Homo sapiens: one gene and its partners. The protein of the gene in region 1 purifies or fractionates together with the protein of each later gene. This does not show direct contact. Each region holds a gene or a part of one and is shown on either strand. Other genes may lie near its edges.

Region 1 (3,996 bases):
AGACCTTACCACCCTGGAAGGCCCCATCACTGCCCCGACTCCAGGATGCTTTTCACAGCATCTTTCACCAAAGCACCTTGTGTTCGGTTCCCAGACCAGGGGGAGGGATGGGCACCTCCTGGGGTGGGACCCCGCAGCCTCTGACGTTGGCCCCAAGCTCTCCCCATCCAGCCCCCTGCCCGTCCCGAGTCGCAGCTCACGCATGGGAGGCCTGGGCGGGCTCCTGTAATGCTTGGAGTAGCAGGGATCTGGAAGGACAGAGGGGGCTCTCAGCGCAGGGACAGGGACCCCGCAGGCACACCTCCCATCCCCACCCTGTCCCGGCTCCCGCTTGGTCCGGGAGCAGTGGGGCTGACCTTTGTTGGTCAAGTCGATGATATTTTGTGAGCCAAGTCCGTACTTTTCGCAGGTTTCTTCAAATCTGCTCAGGAAGGAGGGTTCCAGCTATGGGACCCGTGCTGGGAACAGAGTTGGTTCTGTGTGAAGCTGGGCCTTGCTGGGGGTGCTCAGGAAGTGCTGAGGCTGGGCAGGGGGTCACGCCCTGACCAGAGAGGGGCTTTGTGCCAAGTGAGATGGGAGGTGACAGATTGAAGCACCCAGCACCCTAACGGTGTGTCTGTGGGAAGGAATAGCCAACGGGAACCACCTCTCCAAACCCCAGGGCCACTGCGAGACCCTCCTCCGCCCAGGGTTGGGCCGGACTTCAGAGGAGGTGGGGTCCCCGAGGGGGTCAGAGGGGGACAGCGGAGGTACCATAGAGCGCCAGCGTGTGGGTCTCGGTCCCGTTCCTGAAGTTCTGGAGGTGGAAGGTGATGAACAGCCTGTAGTCAGTCTCCGAGACGGCCACTGTGTTCTGGCCCTCATCTGCGTGGAGACATGGCTCAGCGTGGCCTGGCCCCGCCACCCTCAGGGTCCTGTGACACGTGCTGTGTGGCCGCAAGTGAGGATGGGGGGTCAAGTGGCCTTTTGAGGCGGGAGGGGAGGAGCCCACGGTGCTCACCCAGCGGAGACCCCTGCACAGGGGGCGGGCAGCAGCGGCACAGCCCCCTCCCTCCTTGTCATTGGCTTGCAGACCCTGGTGGCCCCTCAGTGGGCTCACCCCCCAGAGCTCAGCATGACACACCTGCCTCCCTGCTTCCCCTGGGCCAGGAGCCCCCCTGGGTAGGTGCCAGGATGGGTCCCTCCAGTTCAGGGTCAAGCTGTCAGGGGCTTAACTAAAATCCCCAGAGTCAGTGCTCACCAGAATATGGCCCAGGCCCTGGAGAAAGGAGACCCCCGACTGTGAGACCAGGAGGAGCCTGGCTTCCACTTACAGTTGATGGAGTATTCCCCATTCTTCTCTGTCTTCTCGCAGACCACGACCACAGCCACACACTCCCCCTGCACCCTGGAAGCCAGCCAGGAAGATGCCGGGAGTGGAGCTCCAGCCCCCTGGACGTGCGATGGCAGAGAGCACCCCTCCTCCAGGGCACAGGCTCACCCTCCCAATGCCCAGGCCTCATTCCACAGCCCCAAGTTCTTGGGCTGGGCCCTGCTGCAGCCCACCGGACACCCTCATCTCCTCGAACCTCACCCCAGCCTTGGAAGGGGGCGATTTCATCTCTATGTTTCAGGGAAGAGCACAGTGCCAGGCAGACCAAGTCCCTGCTCCCACCTCACCCTGCCCCCAAGGGTCACACGCACAGGCTCAGGCTCTCACCAGAGTGCAAGTCAGTGAGTGTGCGAGCGTGTGTGTGCAAGAGTGAGAGTATGCGTTGGGGTGGCAGGGGCATGGGTCTTCCTGATGCCAGCTGAGATGGGCAACACGCACATGTATTCGAAATCAAATATTAGGCTGCCGTTCTTCAAGTGTTCAATATTCCGGACGAAGACCCTCAGGTCTCCATTTTCTTTAATCCGATTCAGGTCATCTGAGGCCATGAAAATAGAATACCAGACCCCTGAAACCTGAAGACAAAGAGCTCCAGTGGGTGGGGGGCCGCGGGACAGCCCTGGGGATGCTTAGCGCCCACAGTCTTCCCTCCCAGGGCCCGGCCCCTTAGCATCTGGCTCCCAACCAGAACCCCTCCGCCCTTCCAGTGCCCCCAGGTCTCCCCTCGTCACCAGATCCCCCCTTTACCCCCAAGGTCGCCCCTCTGCTCACAGAATGCCCTCCGCCCTTCCAGGGCCCCCGCTGCCCCCCAGGTCTCCCCTATGTCCCCAGATCCCCCCTTTGATCCCAAGGTCCCCCCTCTGCTCACAGAATGCCCTCTGCCCTTCCAGGGCCCCCTCTGCCCCACAGGTCTCTCCTCTGCCCCTCCAGGTCCCCCTCTGTCCTCTCAAGGTCCCCCGCTCCACCCTTTCCCACTGAGTCCCCCTCTTTTCCCTAGGTCTCCCCTATACTTCTAGGAACCCCTCTGTCCTCTTAGGGCCCCCATCTCCCTGCTGGCCGCCACTCCACTCTCCAGCTTTCCCCTCTGCCCTCCCAGGGCCCCCTCTAACCTCTCAGGGCCCCAGTCACTCTCCCAGGCCTCTCCCACCCGACCCTCCCGGAGTAACCCCTGCTCTCCCAGGCTGCTGTCACAGCTTGGGGAGGAGAGGTGGGCTCCCCTTGGACCAGTTGCCCTGGTCACAGGTCAGAGACCCCAGGCTGGGGGAAGACAGGTGCCTTGAAGCCTGGCCCCTTCCCCACAGACCCCAACGCAGACACACCCTGGCCACGTTGTAGTTCCTCTGCATAACGGTGTGGGGATCGAACTCCTGGGCTGCGATGAGGCTCAGCCCCAGGCTCAGCAGAAGCAGAGCCATCTTTGCCGTGGACGCCTCAGCCCTCGGCCCACCCCCTTTATACCCTGCTGCCCTGCGGCTTCCAGCCCTGCAGGGCGGCCCACTCTGTGGCCCGTCCACACACATCCTGTGCCCACTGGGCATGCAGCCAAAGGCCCCGAGGCTGCTGCCCTCTCTACCTTGGGGAAGATCACCCCACTCCCTTGTGGGAGCTTCCTGGATCCATGGGCAAAGGAACCTGCTGTCCCCTCACTGGAGGCAGGCACCTTGTCCCAAATGCAGGGGACAGCCTCTCTCTCAGCCTGCAAGAGGACCCATGGTGGCTGTGTCTGTGGAGTACAGGGTGTCCCTGTTCCCCTCCCATCCCCTCCCGCTCCTTCCCCAGCACAGCGTCTGGGGCCGGAGCCAATGGTGAGTCACAGCGTCCCCAGACTCAACCGACGGCCGGGCGCTTATTCGCTCCTTATTCTCTCAGCCCAGTAACGAGATGCAGACGAGCTGGGAAATAAGAGAGTTTGCTTCTGTCACCGGGTACAGGCAGAAGCCCGGGAAAATAGCACTAGACCAGCTCAAAATTGCAGTTTTCCAGAGCTTATATATCTTCGAAGCTGTAGGTCTACGTGTAAGTGTGCATTCAGCTAAAGACACAGTGATGAACTTCTTCTAATCTATAATTAAGGCCTGAGTCCTGAAGAACTTCCTCTGGAGCCTCAGTAAATTTACTTAATCTGGAGGGGTCCAGGTGCTGGGGTGATTCCCCTTATCTTTTCTCCTGCTAAATCATGGAGGTTTGGGGCGTTCCTTTAGACCCCAGTAAAACTTGTTTAATCCTAAACGGGTCCTGTTAAGAATTCCTTTGTTATCTTGTCATGCTTCAAGGCCCAGGAGAGGCCTGGGCAAAACTCTTGGTGGGCTTTTGTTACATTCCAGCCTCTGTTGAAGGGCGCTGGCCCTCTCAGCTTTTAATATTTGACTTCACCACCCGGTCAGTGCTGAAACAGTTGTCGTGGAGGCCGGCCTATTCAGCCGTTAGTGAGACCTGGCCTGCCACAATCCCCACTGTCAAATTATGCATGATTGCTATCATGCTTGTATATTTATTTCTTATGAGAATCATGGGGGGATGGGGCATTATAATCTTTCTGGCTACTTCCTGCTGATAGGAGGTCATTGTTACGGGGCACCAAACGCAGTGTTGGAGTGAAAGATGTTGATTTGTTCCCAGTAGTA
Region 2 (3,500 bases), on another chromosome or scaffold:
GTAATGTCAAGTAACTTTCAATTGTAATAGAATCATTTATATTCTTATAGTGCCTTACAGCATATTTTATCGTTAATGAGAAAATGAACCAAAACTATAGTGCTAACCCTGAAACCTTAAACCGAACCTTACAAAGTTAAAGACTAAGTGTTGGTCAGAAGGAAAAGGATGCAACCATGCATCTTCCACAGGGAAAATGAAAATAGCAAGATGGCAGAAATGCTGAACTCATGGGTACAAACACACTTTTCTTTATAAAAACAAAACAACACACACACATACACACAGAAATTATTACAATGCAAATCATCATGTGTCTCTATTTTCTACCAGCTGGTGAACCTGTTATTAAAATTTAAAAGAAAAAATCAATTAAACTTTTTCTATTTTAATCCATAGAAATATTCAGTAACATAAATACAACATTTGTTGCATATTAATGAATGTGTGGCTTCTTGTGCTTTCCATCCAAATTAGAGGTAAAAATCCCCAATGACTTTATTTTCAATGAGATATAGTTGTAAAGTTATATTAAACATCTACACAAAAATCAATCTTTCCTTCAACCGAATTCTATATGAAAGTACTAACAGTGAAGATTCATGATGTTGTGTGAAAATGGTGACTCATAACAATGTAGACTCAGCTACAGATTTTAATTCACAAATATATATATGCGCCTTGTGTATGACAACTGTATGAAAATAGTCTCAAAAATAAAGACAATACTTGAGACACAAAGCAACCCATTTTCCCTGATTTTGCATTCTATTACAGGGAAAATAAGTCTCTGATGCTTCATAAATACTTTAAAAAGTTCGGGATGGCCTTAACCATGCATAGTCTCCACCAATCCTTTGAAGCTTCCAGCATCTCAGGCTAACCATTTCAGCTGTGAAGAACTGTACCCTGTAATCAGTTATGCTCATTTATGTCCTGTCTTTTCTAGATCTGGGAGTTTTCTGACCAGGGCCTGGTGGTTCATTCTGATGCTAGCAAGGAGTCCCCCTTCAATGCCGTCTGAACCAGTGTAACTGATTTCTTCACCACTCAGGGTAGTCATATGCCCCCCTAGGGCTTTTAAGATGGCATTACCAGCACATATATCCCACTTTTTGATGTATGTCACATGGATGTATAAATCAGCTTTTTCTTGACTCTTATCAGGCACATCCAAAAGTGCTAAAACTTTATAACCTAAAAGATAAACAAAGAATTTAGGTTATTATTCAAAAAATTTTAAGAAAGTAGCATACTTTTTTGATTAAGTATCCTGTTAAAATAGCAGGATGGAGTGTGCAGGAGCTTGCTGCAGTCTCTGCAACTGCTTAAGTTTAAAATTATTTCAAATTAAAAAAATTTTAAAGTAACTGTATAAACATTAAACTCAGAACAAAAATACATTGCAAAGTAACTTATTGTTTATTTTTATTTATTTATTTATTTTTTGAGACAGAGTCTCGCTCTGTCACTCAGGCTGGAGTGCAACAGCGCGATCTTGGCTCACTGCAACCTCCACCTCTCGGGTTCAAGCGATTCTCCTGCCCCAGCCTCCTGAGTAGCTGGGATTACAGGTGCGTGCCACCATGCCCTGCTAAATTTTTTTGTATTTTTTAGTAGAGACAGGGTTTCTCCGTGTTGGTCATGCTGGTCTTGAACTCCTGGCCTCGTGATCTGCCTGCCTTGGCCTCCCAAAGTGCTGGGATTACAGGCGTGAGCCACTGCACCCGGCCTGCAAAGTAACTTATTAAGCTAGTCTCAAATGTAACCAAATATATACCTACAATTTAAAAATTTTAAATCTACATTGTGGTTATTTTCTATGGAATGACACATTCATTACGTGCCATTTTCTATGGAATGACATATTATACACACAAGTTTTACCTAAACATCTAAGTAGGCCCGATGTGAAAGAGAACTAACAGTAACACTACCACTCTAAAGCCTTTTTGTAATGAGGCAGAATTTAAAAACTAAAGTAATAAAACAAATGCAGAAGAAACTGGGTCTAGAACCTAGTCATCTCATCCCTGCTGGGTATTCTGGACATTACTTTTCCTAACCAACCTAACAGAGAGCCTCTAAGAAAATAATGAAGCCATATGAAAGAAGGCAGATATATAGAACAGAAAATTAAAATTATTAGGCATAAAAGTTAAAAAGTATTGACCAGGTGTGGTGGCTCACGCCTGTAATCCTAGCACTTTGGGAGGCCACAGCAAGCAGACTGCCTGAGCTCAGGAGCTCAAGACCAGCCTGGGCAACGTGGCAAAACCCCGTCTCTACTAAAAATAAAAAATTAGCCAGGCATGGTGGTGCATGCCTGTAGTCCCAGCTACTCGGGAGGCTGAGGCACGAAAATCACCTGAGCCCAGGAGGCGGAGGTTGCGATGAGCCTAGATCACACCACTGCACTCCAGCCTGGGAGACAGAATGAGACCCTATCTCAAAAAAAGAAAAAACAAAACAAAACAAAACAAAAAAGAAGTATTACTTCTCCCTTTATGTGTGCTGAGAAGGTTTTCCAACACATTTGTTTTCTGACCATAATTTGCTATTAACCTGAATTAAAACATTTCTGACATGTTAGACAGTACTCATAACAGGAGTTGACAAACAGCCCCTCAAGCTAAATCCGGGTCATGGCCTGTTCTTACAGGGTTAAGATGAGAATCTTTAAAAAATATGTTCAAAAGTTCATTAAAGAAAATCAAATAATAGTATGCAACAGAGACTGTATATATATGGCTCATGAGGCTTCAAATTTTATTATCGGTTTCTTTTCCAAAAAACTAGGTTGACTATAATACAATAGTAGAGAATATACGATAAGGTGGGTGCGCACTAGCCTCTCTTGCTCATCCCAGGTATGCAGGTTAAAGAGTTCAGGGGTGTTAAAAGTGACTCAGGGATTAGCCTTTCTAATAATACTTATGATGACTCCTGGCGTCTTTCTGCCATATGAAGCATCTTAAGTGCTTGATCTTTCTTCCTCTCCTTGATATTCCCACAGTTAAGTAAGACAATTATTTTGAAATCAGACTGCATAAAAAGCAATTAGTGGTAGATCTAATGGGAATATGCTTTTGTGTATTCAAGAAAGAGAAACCACTGTTGTGAGACTGCTTCTTTCTAATAAGAAGGGCAGAGTGACTAAAATCCCACCCTCGAGGTTACCAAACAGGAGACCAAGCCTGTCTTGAAAGTACACCACTCCTCCTCACTTTCCTCCCAAGCATGGACAAGCAAATTAGTCTCCTAACATAGCCTTGACCATGCCAGGAACATTCTCCAGGGACCACACAGGAAGAGGAACATACCAGCACCACCAGCTGGGATAATTGTAGTCTGGTTTCCAAAAGTCTGAAGAGCGACCTGTTTGACCATCCCTGAATGGGAACGAGACACAACGATCCTTGGGGTCTTCTCATTGTAGGAAGAGCGGGCTTTCACATTTGAACCACCATCTACCATTGCCCAAGCTGAAAAGCAAATAT
Region 3 (3,500 bases), about 67 Mb from region 1:
TGGATGTAGGTATTTAGGAGGAGTAAAGATGAATGAACAAAATTGATTAGTGGCTCTCAAACCAGGGTGCTTTTCTCCCCAGGGAATATTTGGCAATGTCTGAAGATGTTTTTGGTTGTCTTAACTAGGGGAATGCTACTGGCATCTAGTGGGTAGAAGCCAGGGATGTTGTTAAATATCCTACTCTGCACAGGGCAACCCCCTCACAACAAATAATTATCCAACCCAAAATGTTATTTGTGCTGACACTGAGAAAACCTGAACTACATTTTAGAATCTCCCTTCTTCAAAATCTAATAAAACAAAAAATAAAAATAAAAAATAAAACAAAAAGGCCAACATTTTATTAGCAGCAACCAAATATAAAAGGGCCTGCCATAAATTTTGAAGACTGATAGTCAAAATAAGAAACAAAGTTATATGTGATTGATGGTCATTCCCAACTCTACCCCTACCTCCAATAAGAGGTTGTAGGGAAATAGTTTACAAAATCCTAAACACTTACCAGAAATACACTCCAAAATGGCAAAAAGTAGAGCCGAGGAATGAATAAGCAACAGAGGGAAAAGTCAACAAAAAAATTTCAAGAGTGAGTTTTAACCATCTCCATGCTTTGGGAAGGAGAAGGTCAGGTCACATTCTAGGGCTCAGAACAAAGAGAAATGAGAGGTCTGAGGTCGAATGATGTCCCCATACAAGGCAAAGGAATTTTATTCATAAGCAGTTGGGCAGACCCAAGAGTGAAATACTTGGTACTTCAAGAGAGCAGAGCCTAAAAGCCACATTGCCCCATTTGGCTCTCTGAATCACCACTTTTCCCTTCTCTTTCCCTCCACTCCAACAATATACAGCTTTCAAACTAGGGCTCAGGAGAAAAACAAACTTGGGTAAGGAGAGTGGAGTATTAAAAATATTTCCCATCAGCACCACATAGAAGTTCTCCCATATCAAGAAGAAACTTGTATGCATATGTATTACAGCCTGACAAAAAGAAATACACACATACAGGGAATAAAAAGCAAGAAAGAACACAAAATGAAGAAATGAATAGGGCATACAAGTGGCAAAGAACCCATTCTGGAAGGATACATAACCCAATAAAAACTAAAGAAAATTCTCAACAACTTCATCATAATGAAGAACTTGAAAACAATACAACCTTATAATAAACAAGCTCAAAAGCAAGAAGCAGAATAAGATGAAAATGCAGTTTGTAGTGCTAAAGAAACTTAGAGCCTATATAACACAATGACTTAACCAATTAATTCATTTAAAATATCAAAAACAGGACAGATACTGGAGAAAACAGAATTATTGACAAAAAGAAAGGCTTCAGATGATCACAGTAAATGCAAAGGTAAAAGACAAATCAAAGCAATTAGAATACATACGAAGAACAAAAGAAAATTCAGTATTAAAAAAACTGGTGTCATGAAGTAGAGGATCTAATAATTTGACCAAAAAAAAGTATTCATGGTAACAAACAAGGAAAATGTTCTTAGAAGAACTAAGGGCATATTATAATTTAGGGAAAAATGATTATAAGTGACACTTAGATATACCTTGTTTATATTACTGAATTTCAAAAATAAAGAAGAAAACTCTCAGGCATTTTAGATTAAAAAAAAAAAAGTGCCTTCAAGGAGGGAGGGAGAAAAATCAGACTTTTCTACAGTAACACTAGATGTCCCAAAATAATAAAACAGTGACCACAAAGTTCTAATGAAAGTGTTCCCAAACAAGTTATTTTTCAGGAACGAAAGCAATAGACAGACATTCTCAAGCATTAAAGAAAACAGCAAGCATTGAAACTCAGAGACTATAATACTCACAAATTCTTCCTAATAAAAGGAGAAAACATTGGACAAAGAAATCCAGCCAATCAAACACTAGGAGATTATGGAACAACATTTACAAAGTTGAGGGGGAAAAAAGTGTGACTGATAAATTTTATACCGAGCCAAGTAATCCTTCAAGTAATATAAAAACAAAAGACAAATATTTTGAATCAATGAAGTGTATAAGAACCCAAAGAATGCATGCAGTACCTGTAACTTGAAAAGACTGCCTGACAATGAAATTCAATCAGGAGATGGACTAACTCGGGAATGGAGAAGCAACAGTACTGGTAATGAGCACCAAAACTATTAAAACATAGAACTAAAAGAATTATGACAGAACCATGACAACATAAAGAATATGATCAACATGAAACTAGGCCAATTAATATCCTACAATGGCCTCTAAGTGTTCAAGTGAAAGGAACAGTCACCTGTTTCTCACTTTAAATCAAGAGCTAGAAATGATTATGCTTAGTGAGAAAGTTATGTTGAAAGCCAAGATACGCCAAAAGCTAGGTCTCTTGAGCCAGTTAGCTAAGTTGTGAATGCAAAGGAAAAGTTCTTGAAGGAAATTAAAAGTGCTACTCCAGTAAACACACAAATGATAATAAAACAGCCTTATTGCTGATATGAAGTGGTCTGGATAGATGATCAAACAAGCCACAATGTTCCCTTAAGCCAAAGCCTAATTCAGAGCAACCCTAACTCTCTTCAGTTCTATGAAGGCTGAGAGAGGTGAGGAAGCTAGAGAAGAAAAGTTGGAAGGTAGCAGAGGTTGGTTCACAAGATTTAAAGAAAGAAGCCATCTCCATAACATAAAAGTGCAAGGGAAAGCAGCAAATGCTGATATAGAAGCTGTAGTAAACTACCTAGAAGATGTAGCTAACATCATTCATGAAAGTAGCTACACTAAGCAACAGACTTATTTTTTATTTATTTATTTATTTATTTTGAGATGGAGTCTCGCTCTGTCACCCAGGCTGGAGTGCAATGTGCAATCTCAGCTCACTGCCACCTCCGCCTCCCGGGTTCAAGCCATTCTCCTGCCTCAGCCTCCCAAGTAACTGGGATTACAGGCTCCCACCACCAAGCCAGGCTAATTTTTGGTATTTTTAGTCGAGATGGGGTTTCACTATGTTGGCCAGGCTGGTCTTAAACTCCTGAACTCGTGATCTGCCCATCTCGGCCTCCCAAAGTGCTGAGATTACAGGCATGAGCCACCGAGCCCGGCCAGCAACAGATTTTTAATGGAGATGAAATGGCCTCCTTTTGGAAGAAGATGCCATTTAGGACTTTCATAGCTATAGAGAAGTCAATGCCTGGCTTCAAAGATTCAAAGGACAGGCTGACTCTCTTGTTAGAGGCTAAAGCAGCTGGTGACTTCAAGTTGAAGCCAATAATCATTTACCATCCTGAAAATTCTAGGGCCATTAAGAATTATGCTAAATCTCCTCTGCCTGTTTTCTATAAATAATAAAGCCTAGATGACAGCACATCTGTTTACAGCATGGTTTATTTTAAGCCCACCATTGAGATCTACTGCTTAGAAAAAAAAAGATTCCTTCAAAATATTATTGCTCATTGACAACACACCTGATCACCCAAGAGCTGTGATGGAGATGTACAAGGAGATTAATGTTGTTTTCATGCCTGCTAACA
Region 4 (3,500 bases), on another chromosome or scaffold:
TTCCTCTGGTTCATCCCTTGAAGGCATCATGTGTGCCACTCTATTCCCCTCTGGACCAAAGACCATGGTCCTCTCTGTCATTATGCTGGAAGATTCTAAGGGCTGATGCCTTTTCTACCCTTTCTTCTGCATCATAGCCCAACAGGAGTAGGCAGCTCCCTAGATAATGGCAGCAGAGGTGCCTGTATACCCAGCAGTTCCTCCTCTTCTTGTTGTGGAGCCTCCCACTTGAGGGTTAGCAGTGTCTCTCTTCCTTGGATCCACCTGGGAAGAGCTGACATGTTGATGTGGCTAAGCACTGTAGCCACTCCCTGGGCTGCATTCCATGAGGGTCAGTGCCCTTGACCGAGTCATGTCTCCAGTGCTCTGTCCAGAGGAGGAGCTTCACAACACTGCCTGGGAGCTCAAGGATCAGTTTGGTTTTCTGTTATCAGTTAAGTGGGGAGTAGCCACTCCGGGGTCCCTTGTCCCTGGGAGGGACAGGGTGAGGATGAGCTGAGGAAGCCAGGTACAGGCAGGAGTGAAATGGAGAGATTAAGAACGAGACAGGTTCATGTCTCACCTGGAGCTGAGTTCTGCAGAAATGGCCTTGGAGGAGGAGACAGGAGCTTTCACCCCTGCCGGGTGCTCAGCTGGAGGCAGGAAAGCCGATTCCGTAGCTCAGTGGGAGGTCTCCTCTGATTACACTGTTTGACTTTCTGTCTTGCTTTCTTCTTGTCTTTCTTTTTCCTAACAATCAGTAGTAGAATTATAGCGTTCTCAGCTCCCACACAGTGGCACACCCCTGAGAAGGTTGAGTCACGACCTGTCATCCGCTGATCCTAGTTAATGCATGGTCCCCGCACAGCCAGGCTTACCTTCTGAGCAGCCTCCATCCTGAGCCAGTCTGCAGACCCCTCACCTCCCAGTCCCTCCAGCATCAGAGGCCAGAAAGTACTCTTTCTATTAAAATGAAAACAATGTACAAATGTCAAGGTCTGTCATTTACACAAAGTGCTTAATTTCTTTTTAATGCATCAAATTTTATTATTTCTGACATCTTACTGTGTTCATGCAGCTGTAAGAAAAGCACAGAGCAGGCTGGGCGCGGTGGCTCACGCCTGTAATCCCAGCACTTTGGGAGGCCGAGGTGGGTGGATCACGAGGTCAGGAGATCGAGACCATCCTGGCTAACACAGTGAAACCCCATCTCTATTGAAAAAGTACAAAAAAAATTAGCCGGGCGTGGTGGCGGGTGCCTGTAGTCCCAGCTACGTGGGAGGCTGAAGCAGGAGAATGGCATGAACCCAGGAGGCGGAGCTTGCGGTAAGCAGAGATGGCGCCACTGCACTCCAGCCTGGGAGACAGAGCAAGACTCTATCTCAAAACAAAAAAAAAAGAAAGAAAAGGACAGAGCAGTTTCTATCCCAAAAAATTCCCATCATGTCATATGGGGACAATTAGAATGTAATTATGTCCCATACTTATGCTTCTGTGAATTTTTGTGCCCAGCTCAAGGCCTCAGACTGCCTTCTGTCCAGAGAAGATGATGATGGTGATCACAGCATGGTGCCACAACCTACACGCTGCCTGCAGCTAGGGCCTCTCACCAGATGGTTGGGTTTTCAACCCAGCTCTGTGACCATGGCTGTGTATATGGCCTTGGGCAGTCACCTGCCCTCTTGGTGCCTCAATTGTCTAATCCATAGAATGGAGATAATGTCAGTTCCTACTTTGTGGGGTAGTTATGAGGCTGTAAGGCACTGGTCAGTACCTGGCACACCAGTTGCCCGTATTATTTATGCAGTTGTTTTATTTTTGTGTCTGGGGTACCTTCCCACTACCCCAACCCACTTCTGGTGGATTATGCAAAATATTTCTTTTCTTTGAGCTGGTGCTGCTGCTGCTTTTCTCAGGTGTCTGGGAATGGGACTGAGCTGCCTTACAGAGGCGGCGCAGGGGAGCATCCCGAGGGCCTCTGTGCCATAAGAATGGTTTCTCTTGATCTCTCCCCACAGGGTGTGGCCACTGTAAGAAAATGAAGCCGGAGTTTGAGAAGGCAGCAGAAGCCCTCCATGGAGAAGCGGATGTAAGCTTCCTTTCCTTCCCCCTCACCGTTCTCTTTGAAAGAATCACTGACAGGTGGAATCATTATGACTTTCCCCTGCAAGCCCTGCTGCAGCTCCCGTGGTCCGTGGAGGCCAGCAGTACCTCTGTGTGCCCAAGTAGAACATCTTAGACAGATGGGATCCTAGAGGGGGCAGAAAGACTACTGGCCCATGTTCCCGTGCCCATCCAGGTGACCTCTGCCTGCTCCCTCTTTTCTCTGGGACCCTGGCTAACAGGAACAGGTGCCAATCTACTCAACGTGGCTGGTGGGGCAGATTCAAAAGCCTCATCTCAGCTCATAAATGAGAAATGATGGCCGTGCCAATGTTCAGTTGTTCCCTGGGATATGGGAGCCCACTGGGCTAGCCACCCCAGTTAAATTCCAGCAGGTCCAGGATGGGTTGTGGGGGCAGCGTCTGGGCTCCTGTGTTCCACCAGCACCGCATCTGAGGCTGTAATGCATGGTTGGCCTTTCCCCCATCCCAGAGCTCTGGTGTCCTTGCAGCTGTCGATGCCACTGTCAACAAGGCCCTGGCAGAAAGATTCCACATCTCAGAGTTTCCTACGTTGAAGTATTTTAAGAATGGAGAGAAATACGCAGTGCCTGTGCTCAGGACAAAGAAGAAGTTTCTCGAGTGGATGCAAAAGTAAGTGTTACGATCTCAGTAGCACATCCTAACTGCCAGCTGGCGGCCCCTGGAGACCACCTTGAGGAGGTGAAGTAAACTTTATGGTCAATGTCCTGGGCTCATGCCCGTAGGAGTCAAGACGGATCTGACTTCCTCAACCCTAAAACCACCGTTCATATGCTGATCACGTGTCTTGATCAGGTCACTGCTGGCAGTCCTTCTGGACGCAGCTTCATCGACGCACTAAACCGTGTGTTGCTTTTTCTCTGTCTCAGCCTCCTTAGGCCCAGATCTTATTGTCTGCATTTTATTCCACTCCCTTTGAATAAATGAAGGAGACACAGCTCTTCATAGCCAGAGCTAGACTCATTTCGTCCAGGTTTGCTAGTGGTTGGCTGGGCCTCCAGTAATGTCCACAGGGCAGGCTATGGTGGTTTGCAACTGAGGATAAAGATTTTGAAGAGCCCCCTCAGCCTATGTATTAGTTTGCTAGTGTTGCCATAACCAAGTAACAGACCAGGTGGCTCAACAATATAATATAACAATATAACAGAAGTTTATTTTCTTACAATTTTGTTTTGTTTTGTTTTGTTTTGAGACAGTCTCACTTAGTCACCCAGGCTGGAGGCATGATCTCGGCTCACTGCAACCTCCACCTCCCAGGTTCAAGCGATTCTCCTGCCTCAGCCTCCCAGGTAGCTGGGATTACAGGCACATGCCACCATGCCTGGCTAATTTTTTGTATTTTTAGTAGAGACGGGGTTTCACCATGTTGCCCAGGCT
Region 5 (3,500 bases), on another chromosome or scaffold:
TGTAAACATGTACCTACCATTAGGTATCATACGCAAGTTTCACTGCCCTAAAGGCAGTGAATTTTACGTGTACAATTCCATAAGAGTTGATGCGTGTCATTATACATTTGTCCAAACCATAAAGTACAAGACCAAGAGTAAACCCTGATATAAACTACAGGACTTTGGGTGATGAAGCGTCAATGTAGGTTCAATTTTAACAAACGTATGGCTCCGTGGCTCTGTGGGGATGTTGACAATGCGGGAGGCTATGCATGGGTGGAGGTAGGAGGTATACAGGATATCTCTTATCTTTAGCTCAATTTTGGTGTGAACCTAAAAACTGCTCTAAAAAAATGACTATTTTTTAAAGTCCTCTGTGCTACCCCAATTCATCCAACTCCTGATCTTTTTACTGTCTCCATAGTTGTGCCTTCAAGAATGCCATATAGTTGGAATCATACAGCCTTTCCTTCAGTTAATAATATGCATTTAAGATTCCTCCATGTCTTTTCATGGCTTGATAGCTCATTTCTTCTTAGCACTAAATAATATAATATCCCATTGTCTGGATGTACCGCAGTTTATTTATCCATTTACCTACTGAAGAACATCTTGGTTGCTTCCAAGTTTTGGCAGTTATGAATAAAACTGCTATAAACATCTGTGTGCAGGTTTTTGTGTGGACATAAATTTTCAATTCATTTGGGTAAATACCAAAGAGTGTGATTGCTGAATTATAAGTGTTGAGTTCTGTAAGAAACTGACAAACTGTCAGTTGGATTTTTAACTGGTTTCATTCTTTCCTATTCTTGTGTGTCTACAGTTTTATATACTGTTCAAGCTGTTCTCTTTCATCACATTTAAAGACTCTGAAACAATTACTATTTCATTTTACACTCACTTTACATCTGCAAAGTGTGGTAAAACACCCAAAAATGAGGGAAAACCTAACTAATAAAGAAGTTAATATCCCCAGACGGGCTGAAAACTAGTGTAACGTGAGCGAGTATTTGATTTGTGACTAACTTTACTAAAAGCAGTAGGTTCATTCACTTTCATATTATGATTATGACAACTTTCTTGCCTCAGCTGCCACAGTTTAGGAAACCTACACAATGAATATTCTGAAAATAAAGTCTCCCTCACTCACCTTAAACCCATACTCAATAAAAAATGAATACATATATGAAACACATTTATCAAAATTAGCAAACAGACTTCAGGTGTTTTAAAAAGCAAAATTTTAACATATGGAACCCTAATCTCTAATTGAACCCTATCACAAAATGAGTTATGTTTCATGGTTTGGGAGTAGGGCAAGAAAAAAGTTAAGGCCATTAATTAAATACCAAACAGGAAACACTAATGCTGTTCCACTCCATCCCACCCACGTACCAAAAATGTTTAAATAACTTAAGGCTCTTTGTTCCCTGATTTAGCAATAAAATGTTTATGGAATTCCACAAATCTACCTACTTGACAAGACAGATTTACACACTGGATTATTTACTTTTCTAAAACAAATTTAATTGTGCAAAAATTCAGGCTATACATCTTATCACATCAAGAAGTGCTAACACTGCTATCTATATATGCTATTTAAATGTGATACACTGTAAGGTACCAGAAAAAAGAATACTTGTAATACACACATATACAGCCTTGACCTTTGTATTGTATTATTGAACAAGTGCAAGAAATATATTTGGCCTAGCAAATGGGAACTAAGTAGCTGATAAAGTCCATTTACATGGCAAAAACCAATTCTTAAGACTGGCAAACTTTTAAAAATGCAATACTGACGTGGTGCTTTGAAATAAAATCTGCAACAATCATTGTCATAATCACACCTAAATGTATATAGTGATTGCTATGTGCAAGACAGTGTTCTAAGCACTGTAAATTAACTCACTTGATCCTCACAACTGAGTTCAGGTACTTTTTTTTTTTTTAACTTTTTTTTTTTTTTTTGAGACAAGGCCTCACTCTGTTACCCAGGCTGGCATGCATTGGTACAATCATGGCTCACTGCAATCTCGACCTCCCAGGCTCAAGCAATCCTCCTACCTCAGCCTCCTGAGTAGGTGGGACTATAGGCATATGCTACCACACCTGGCTTTTTTTTTTTTTGGTTTAGTTTTTTGTTTTTTTTTTTGGCAAGGGAGTGGTTTGGTAAATCAGGTAGGCTGAGCGACTCCCAATTTTGTTTATTTTTTGTCAAGATGGGGTCTCACTCTATGTTGCCCAGGCTGGTCCTGAACTCCTAGGCTCAAGCAATCTTCCTGCCTCGGACTTCCAAAGTGCTGAGATTACAGGTGTGAGCCTCCACACCAGGCCATATTATCCTTTTTCAATTTTTTTTTTTATAAATAAGAACATTAAGGCCAGGCGCAGTGGCTCACGCCTGTAATCCCAGCACTTTGGGAGGCCGAGGCAGGCGATCGCAAGGTCAGGAGTTCAAGAACAGCCTGGCCAACACAGTGAAACCCCGTCTCTACTAAAAATACAAAAAAATTAGCTAGGCATGGTGGCAGACGCCTGTAATCCTAGCTACTCACTAGGCTGAGGCAGGAGAATCGCTTGAACCCTGGAGGCACAAGTTGCAGAGAGCCAAGATTACACCACTGCACACCAGCTGGGGCGACAGTGCGAGACTCTGTCTCAAAAAAAAAAAAGGAAATAAGAACATTAAGACCCAGAGAGGTAAATAAGTTTACCAAGGTCACACAATTGAGAGTAGAAATCAGGATCCAAACCTAGGCAAGCTGTCTTAGAATTCCAGGCTCTTAACACTATGTTTTACTATCTCTATTTCATTTTTGGTTCATTCATATGTTTTATGCATTCACAGGAATAAAACAATATTCTACACACATCACCAGTAGATCCTTCTGGAAGATTTGTATGTTGTGGTATGTAAAAGCATTCACTACATCTTTGTAATATACTACCTTTTTTCTAGAAAATGTACATTTGATGACTGGGAGCAGTGTCTCACACCTACAATCCCAGAACTTTAGGAGGCCAAGGCAGGAGGATCACTTGAGCCCAATAGTTTGAGACCAGCCTGGGCAACATAGGGAGACCCATCTCTACAAACAATAAATAAATTTTTAATTAGCCAGGCCTGGTAGTGCGCACCGGTAGTACCAGATACTCAGGATGCTGAGCTGGGACAATCACTGAGCCCAGGAGGTTGAGACTGCAGTGAGTCATGATCACACCACTGCACTCCAGCCTAGGTGACAGAGCAATTAAAAAAGAAAATGAACATTGGAAACCTTCTAGTAATCACAAAAACTAAGTGCAAAACTGTCACTTTCTGGGTTTTTCCAAATTATCAAAGACTGGTAAAATTCTTTTTTTTTTTTTTTTTTTCAAAGAGACAGGGTCTTGGCCAGGCGTGGGGGCTCACACCTGTATTCACCAGCACTTTGAGAGGCCAAGGCAGACAGATTGCCTGAGGTCAGGAGTTCGAAACCAGCCTGGCCAAAATGGTAAAACCCCATCTCTACTAA
Region 6 (3,500 bases), on another chromosome or scaffold:
GTTTGAGACCAGCCTGGCCAATATGGTGAAATCCCATCTCTACTAAAAATACAAAAATTAGCCAGGCGTGGTGGCAGGCGCCTGTAGTCCCAGCTACTCGGAAGGCTGAGGCAGAAGAATCACTTGAACCTGGGAGGCAGAGGTTGCAGTGAGCCGAGATTGTGCCACTGCACTCCAGCCTGGGCAACAGAGCAAGATGCTGTCTCAAAAAAAAAAAAAAAAAAAAAAATCCACTGGCGAGTGAGGCATGGTGGTACATGCATGTAATCCCAGCTACTCAGGAGGTTGAGGTGGAAGGATTGCTTGATCCCAGGAGTTCAAGACTAGCCTGGGCAACATAGCAAGACCCCATCTCAAAAAAAAAAAAAAAAGTCCATTGGCATTAGCTTTCCTCACCAGAACTTTAGGATGTATCTCAGATTATTCTTCCAGTTTCTAGATCTCTTTCCCATCACAAGACTGAAGAAGCAAACTACTTGCAGAGATGGAAGTAGCCAGATGTGGAGATGAGTTCACTGACCACTTTGATGTTTTTCTGCCAGTGATGATAAGTGGTAACCAAAAGGGATGATCAAGAACTTCCTCAGTCACAACATAGCCTATGAGCAGACCTCAGAAACATACCCTTCCCCATTTCTCTGTAGATGTGAAATGTGAAATGTGACAAGGGCCAAACATCAGACTCTTCCCAAAGGTTCCGATGTCCAGTCTGGGGACACCTGGGCCAACACAGCAGCCCCAGCTGTGAAGATGGAAGGTCCAAGAGGCACCAGAGAAGCAGATGATAAATGGACCACCTCAAAATCCAAAGACTGGAAGAAAATTAAAACAATAAAGAATAAACTTGGCTGGGTGTGGTGGTTCACACTTAATAATCCCAGTACTTTGGGAGACCGAGGCAGGAGAAATGCTTGAGCCCAGAAGTTCAAGACCAGCCTGAGCAACACAGTGAGACTGTCTCTACCAAAAAAAAAAAAAATTAGCCAGATGTGGTGGCACATGCCTGTAGTACCAGCTACTCAGGAGGCTGAGGCAGGAGAATCACTTGAACCCAGGAGGCAGAGGTTGCAGTGAGCCAAGATCACGCCATTGCACTCCAGCCTGGGCAACAAGAGCGAAACTCAGTCTCAAAAAAAAAAAAAAAAAAAAAAAAAAAACAGGAAAGGAAACGAAAAAGCTTGTGGTACTAGCTGTTTCTTCTGGATAAAAAACTGGCCTTGATGACTACATTAAAGAAAGAATATCAGATAAGACCATGCATTCTCAGTGAGTGCAGTAACAGCCCAGAAGGGGTGAAAATTGATTCTTGGGGGAAAAAAAGTTAGATATTACAATGGTTTGTGGCCATCCAAAGGGCCACAATACAAAAACAGATACACAGTACATCTGTGGTATTAAAATTCCATTGGGGGTAGCTGGGCACGATGGCTCATGCCTGTAATCCCAGCACTTTGGGAGACTGAGGTGGGCAGATCACTTAAGGCCAGGAGTTCAAGACCAGCCTGGCCAACATGGCAAAACACAAAAACTACTACTAAATAACACAAAAATTAGTTGGGCATGGTGGTGGGCGCCTATAATCCCAGTTACTCAGGAGGCTGAAGCACAAGAATCACTTGAACCCAGGAGGCAGAGGCCACAGTGAGCAGAGATCACACCACTGCACTCCAGCCTGGGCGACAGAGTGAGACTCCCTCTCAAAAAAACATTCCACTGGGGAGTAGACAATTAAGGGAAAAAAAGTCTCAAAATATGATAATGAACAAAAGGTTGAAAAATAATTAGATGAACCCAAAGGGTTGAGTCTTAGATGAACCCTAAGGGCACAGTGTTCATTAACTTGTATAATGGTCATGGGTAGGGTAACTAACTTGTCCTGGTTTGCCCCGGACTTTCCTGCTTTTGGCACTAAAAGTCCCACATACGGATATCCCTCTGTCCTGGGAAAACTGGCATGGTGGTCCACTCTTCTCAAGAGAGAGATCAATGAAGGCATTCCCATTTCACAAATGAGGTGACACCAAGAAACACAGTGGTTGTCACGGATTCACAGCACTTTAGCAGCATTCCTGAGGCAAGGCTGGCTCTTTCCATTTGTCTAGTCCTATGCTCACAACTCTCTGCCCCTGATTTCCACTTTGGCAGAGAATGTTACTCATGAATTGATTATGCCACTTCCTTCTCAATACCAAAGCCAAGGGCAGTATTAGGAGGATGAAGGCAAACATGGCCAGCCAGCATAATCACAGCCATGTCTTACAGCTGCCTGGTGGAACCTGAAGGAACTACAAGTCTGGGCTGAATATAGTTTTGTTGCTACTGGATTCTGGGTACAAATTTGCAAAAGTAAGAATGCCAGGTGTAAACTCCTCACAAGCTAGGAAAATTCCTAGCTTGAGGTTCTCCACATGTGTCTGAGCAGCCCGAATCTTTTACAAGGTTTTTGTCCCAAAGATGAACTCAGTTATTGCTTATGCTAGGAATCAGGGGTTACCCAAGGCCTCACTCTGAATGGCAACAGGCTATTCTCCTACTCCCCTACTCAGCAGTGAAATCCTTGGTGAAAGTAAAGGAAGAAAAGAAAAGGGCATGCTATTCCGTCTTTAGTCTACGTATAATTAAAATACAAGACTCTCTGCTGTAGAAGACTAAGGTTTGCAGTTTAAGGCCGACTCAGAAAAGGATAAAGTATTCATCCTTGCTCAGAAAGAGAGAAGATTAGCTCCACAGGATGGGTCTCCAAATTGACACCAAATCCAGGAGTTAGAGATGGCTGTGCTACAGAGCGTGATCCAAGCACCATCTGGAGCCCCCAGAAAAAAATCCCTAGGAATAGCGACTAAGGGACTAGCATTGTAAGAGAGTTCAGATTAGCTCTCCTGAAAAGAGGCTTACTACAAGAGACTGGCAGACAGCCTCTGCAGCAAAACTTCACTTAGGAAAGGACAGAAAATGAATGAAGAAAGACAGGGGGAGGCTGAGCAGGTCAGAGTATGAATCCACAAGTATGTGAAAAAGAGAATCCACCTATTTCGAAAAAGGTACAACTTCCTTTCAGAGCCTTTTTTTTTTTTTTTGAGACAGAATCTCTCGCTCTATCACCCAGGCTGGAGTGCAATGGCACAATGATCTCGGCTCATTGCAACCTCCGCCTCCCGAGTTCAAGTGATTCTCCTGCCTCAGCCTCCCGAGTAGCTGGGATTACAGGCATGCGCCACCACGCCCGGCTAATTTTGCATTTTTAGTAGAGACGGGGTTTCTCCATGTTGGTCAGGCTGGTCTTGAACTCCCGACCTCAGGTGATCCACCCACCTCAGCCTCCCAAAGTGCTGGGATTACAGGTGTGAGCCACCGCACCCGGCCAGAGACTCTCATGTTCTTTTGAATATTCTCATTAACGGCAAATCTTCATTCTTTGAGGGTGAAAACATTTATTGCATTCCTATGTCCCAAGAGCTTTCATGTGTAATACGTCATTTAACCACCCTTCAAAGTAAATA
Region 7 (3,500 bases), on another chromosome or scaffold:
AGGGTTTCACCGTGTTAGCCAGGATGGTCTCGATCTCCTGACTTTGTGATCCGCCTGCTTCGGCCTCCCAAAGTGCTGAGATTACAGGCATGAGCCACCATGCCTGCCCTCCTTGGGCTTTTTATTATCTCCTTGGGTACATAGGATTCTTGTCTTCAGGCTTACCAAAAAAAGAAACCTAATAATTATTGGATTCTACCCATATACCACTTAAACATAAGATTCATATGCCTTACAGTGGTCTGTAAAGATTTAGATTACCTGGCCCATGCCTGTCCTTTTCATCTCATCTTTATTATCTGCCTGTCTCTCACTATACTCCAGTGACACCAGTCTACTTTCTGTTTTTTCAACATGATAGTTTTGTTTTCCTATTAAGCTTTCTCAATTGCTTGTTTCCCTGTCTGGAACTCTCTTATCTCAAATCTTTCTCCAGATCTTCACGTGGCGGACTCTTCATTGTCTAGGAAACCAGATAATATACTGATTAACAGTACTGGCTAGATGGTAGAAAAAAAACAAAAAACAAAACAAACAGCAACAACAAAAAGTACTGGCTAGATGTTCTTAACTTAGATTTTTGCATATTTTTTGTTAAGCTTTTTATTTTGAGACAATTATAGAGTCACATGCAGTTTTAAGAAGTAACAGAGAGAGATCCCTTACCCAGTTTGCCCCAGTGGTACCATCTTCAAAACTCTAGTACATCATAACCACCGTATTTGTGTTGATTCAGTCAAGACACAGAACGTTTCCATCACCACAAAGATCCTTCATGTTACTCTTTTATAGCTGCCCCACTTCCCTCCCATCTTCACCCCCACCTTAACCCTTGGTAACCACTCATCTGATCTCCATTTTTATAATTGTGTCATTTCAAGATTGTTATATAAATCAGTGGTCCCCAGTCTTTTTGGCACCAGGGACCGGTTTTGTGGATGACAATTTTTCCACAGATGGAGATGGGGTGGTTTGGGGATGAAGCTGTTCCACCTCAGATCATCAGGCATTAGATTCTCAAAAAGAGCATGCAACCTAGATCCCTCACATGTGCAGTTCACAATTTGATTCTCCAGCTCCTGTGAGAACCTCATGCCACTGATGTGACAGGAGGCGGAGCTCAGGTGGTAATGCTTGCTTGCTCCCTGCTCACCTCCTGTTGTGTGGCCCGGTTCCTAACAGGCCCTGGACTGGTACCAGCGCATGACCTAGGGGTTGGGGACCCCTGATATAAAAGAAATCATACAGGCCAGGTGCAGTGATTCACACCTGTAATCCCAGCATTTTGGGAGGCCGAGGTGGGCAGATCACGAGGTCAGGAGTTCGAGTCCAGCTTGACCAACATGGTGGAACCCCGTCTCTACTAAAAAAATACAAAAATTAGCCTGGCGTGGTAGCACACGCCTGTAATCCCAGCTACTCAGGAGGCCGAGGCAGGAGAATCGCTTGAAACCCGGGAGGCAGAGGTTGCAGTGAGCTGAGATCATGCCATTGCACTCCAGCCTGGGTGACAGAGCAAGACTCTGTCTCGGAAAAAAAAAAAAAAAATCATACAATATGTAATCTTTTGGGATTGGCTTTTTTTACTCACATATCCTCTGGAGATTCATCCAAGTCACTGCATGGATCAGTAGTTCATTTCTTTTTCTTGGTGAGTAGTATTCCATGGTACGTACCAAACTCTTTTTAACCATTTATCTGTTGTAGGACATCTGGGTTATTGATATTTTATTTAGAATACTAATTTACTTTATGAATAGATAACATATTCACAAGGTTTTGAAAAGATGTAAGAAGTCATGAAAGCTCCTCTCCCCCGTATTTCCCATCTTTCCCACCGAAACAGGCAAATGCTGTAATTATTTACTTGGGTATCCTCCAGAGACCCCTCTCTGCCCCACAAAAGTTGAAAGGTCAATGAACACTCACGTACTAGATACTTAAATCTTGGCTTTGCTTCTCAGCTTTTCTGCTTCAGTTTCCTTATCTGTAAAAGGAGAATAATAGTAACTTCCTCATATGCTTCTTCAATCCCCATAATCGTATTAATTCCGTGAATGCTTATTTAGCAACTACTATGTGCCAGGCATTGTTCTAGGTACAGGGAATGTGGTAGAGAACAAAACAGTCCATATCCCAATAAAGCTTCTATTTTGGGAGTGAGAGAGACAGTAAATAAATATATTTAATACATTACAATGAGTGATGCTATGTGGAAAAGCAGAATGGGGAATGAGGGTGCTATTTTCTGTAGGGTGACTTTAGCAGATATTTGAAGGAGGTAAGGAGGGAGGGAACAAAGCTGATGTCTGGAAGGAAGAGTGCTCCAGGTGGAGGGAATAGCTAGTACCGAGGATCTGAGGTCGGAATTTGCTTGCCATGTTCAGGAATCGGCAGTGAAGCCAGAGTGGGCTAGGAGGTGTGTTGTAGGTGATGGGGGCACTTTGCCTTTCACTTTTAGTGAGATCAGAAAGCACTGGTTTGGGGCAAAGGAATGACATGATATGGCTTAAGTTGCATTTATTTATTTTCATGTTTGGTTTTAAAAAATTGAATAAGTAATGTTTGCACATGGTTCAAAAATGACAATCATATGTAAAAAGGACTGTGTTCAGTCTGGTTCCCACAGCTGTCCTCAACCACCAAGATCCTGTACATTAAGCATGCTTTTTAAAATATTTTACCCCTTTATTAGTTTTGGGGCAGTCATCCAGAGTTTCTTTATATAAATGCAAGCAAATAGGAGTATACATTAAAAATATTTTTCCTCCTTTTTTTTTTTCCCTATTTCAGACAGGGTCTTGCTCTGTTGCCCAGACTTGAGAGCTATGGCATGATTGCAGCCTAAAACTCCCAGGCTCCAGTGACCTCCTGCCTCAGTCTCCTGAGTAGCTGGGACTACAGGAGTACATCACCATGCTTGCCTAATTTTTATTTTTATTTTTTTGCAAAGACAAGGTCTTGCTCTGTTGCCCAGGCTGGTCTCCCAACTCCTGGCTTCAAGTGATCCTCCTGCCTCGGCCTCCCAAAGTGCTGGGATTATGAGTGTGAGCCACCGTGTGCCTAGCCTTTTTTCCCTTTCTCACACCAGGTGGCATACTATCCTGTACCTTCTGTTTTTCATGTAACATATCTTGGAGTTGTTTCCATATCAGTACCCAGATTTTTTTTTTTTTTAATTGTAGAGACAGGTGTTGTTATGTTGTTCAGGCTAGTCTTGAACTCCTGGTCTCAAACAGTCCTCCTTCCTCAGCCTCCCACACTGTTGGGATTACAGGTGTGAGCCACCACACCCATCCACCCACCCCTGTTTTTTTTTCTTGGTAACTAATGTATAATATTCATCCTGTGGCTATAGATGTATCATCCTTGTTTTTTTTGAGATGGAGTCTTGCTATTGCCCACGCTAGAGTGCAGTGGCATGATCTCAGCCCACAGCAACCTCCGCCTCCCAGGTTCAAGCGATTTTCCTGCCTCAGCCTCCCGAGTAGCTGGGATTA

Evidence for each region.
Region 2: the proteins of LCN9 (region 1) and BPNT2 purify together in Homo sapiens (affinity purification with mass spectrometry; one large-scale study listed by BioGRID and IntAct). This does not show direct contact.
Region 3: the proteins of LCN9 (region 1) and ZNG1C purify together in Homo sapiens (affinity purification with mass spectrometry; one large-scale study listed by BioGRID and IntAct). This does not show direct contact.
Region 4: the proteins of LCN9 (region 1) and PDIA5 purify together in Homo sapiens (affinity purification with mass spectrometry; one large-scale study listed by BioGRID and IntAct). This does not show direct contact.
Region 5: the proteins of LCN9 (region 1) and NUDT9 purify together in Homo sapiens (affinity purification with mass spectrometry; one large-scale study listed by BioGRID and IntAct). This does not show direct contact.
Region 6: the proteins of LCN9 (region 1) and SIL1 purify together in Homo sapiens (affinity purification with mass spectrometry; one large-scale study listed by BioGRID and IntAct). This does not show direct contact.
Region 7: the proteins of LCN9 (region 1) and NKIRAS1 purify together in Homo sapiens (affinity purification with mass spectrometry; one large-scale study listed by BioGRID and IntAct). This does not show direct contact.

What each region holds. Positions count from the first base shown.
Region 1 is NC_000009.12:135,662,113-135,666,108, reverse strand, and holds the start of LCN9 (epididymal-specific lipocalin-9 precursor), read right to left. Parts: upstream 2,801-3,996; 5' UTR 2,788-2,800; coding exon 2,692-2,787; intron 1,948-2,691; coding exon 1,811-1,947; intron 1,388-1,810; coding exon 1,314-1,387; intron 865-1,313; coding exon 754-864; intron 459-753; exon of another isoform or gene 422-458; coding exon 366-421; 3' UTR 357-365; intron 249-356; 3' UTR 1-248.
Region 2 is NC_000008.11:56,962,868-56,966,367, forward strand, and holds part of BPNT2 (Golgi-resident adenosine 3',5'-bisphosphate 3'-phosphatase), read right to left. Parts: intron 3,486-3,500; coding exon 3,324-3,485; intron 1,198-3,323; coding exon 926-1,197; 3' UTR 1-925. UniProt on the Homo sapiens protein: Exhibits 3'-nucleotidase activity toward adenosine 3',5'-bisphosphate (PAP), namely hydrolyzes adenosine 3',5'-bisphosphate into adenosine 5'-monophosphate (AMP) and a phosphate.
Region 3 is NC_000009.12:68,251,983-68,255,482, reverse strand, and holds part of ZNG1C (zinc-regulated GTPase metalloprotein activator 1C), read right to left. Parts: intron 1-3,500.
Region 4 is NC_000003.12:123,143,525-123,147,024, forward strand, and holds part of PDIA5 (protein disulfide-isomerase A5 precursor), read left to right. Parts: intron 1-1,997; coding exon 1,998-2,068; intron 2,069-2,574; coding exon 2,575-2,735; intron 2,736-3,500.
Region 5 is NC_000004.12:87,425,573-87,429,072, reverse strand, and holds part of NUDT9 (ADP-ribose pyrophosphatase, mitochondrial isoform a precursor), read right to left. Parts: intron 1-3,500.
Region 6 is NC_000005.10:139,191,869-139,195,368, forward strand, and holds part of SIL1 (nucleotide exchange factor SIL1 precursor), read right to left. Parts: intron 1-3,500.
Region 7 is NC_000003.12:23,896,491-23,899,990, reverse strand, and holds part of NKIRAS1 (NF-kappa-B inhibitor-interacting Ras-like protein 1), read left to right. Parts: intron 1-3,500. UniProt on the Homo sapiens protein: Atypical Ras-like protein that acts as a potent regulator of NF-kappa-B activity by preventing the degradation of NF-kappa-B inhibitor beta (NFKBIB) by most signals, explaining why NFKBIB is more resistant to degradation.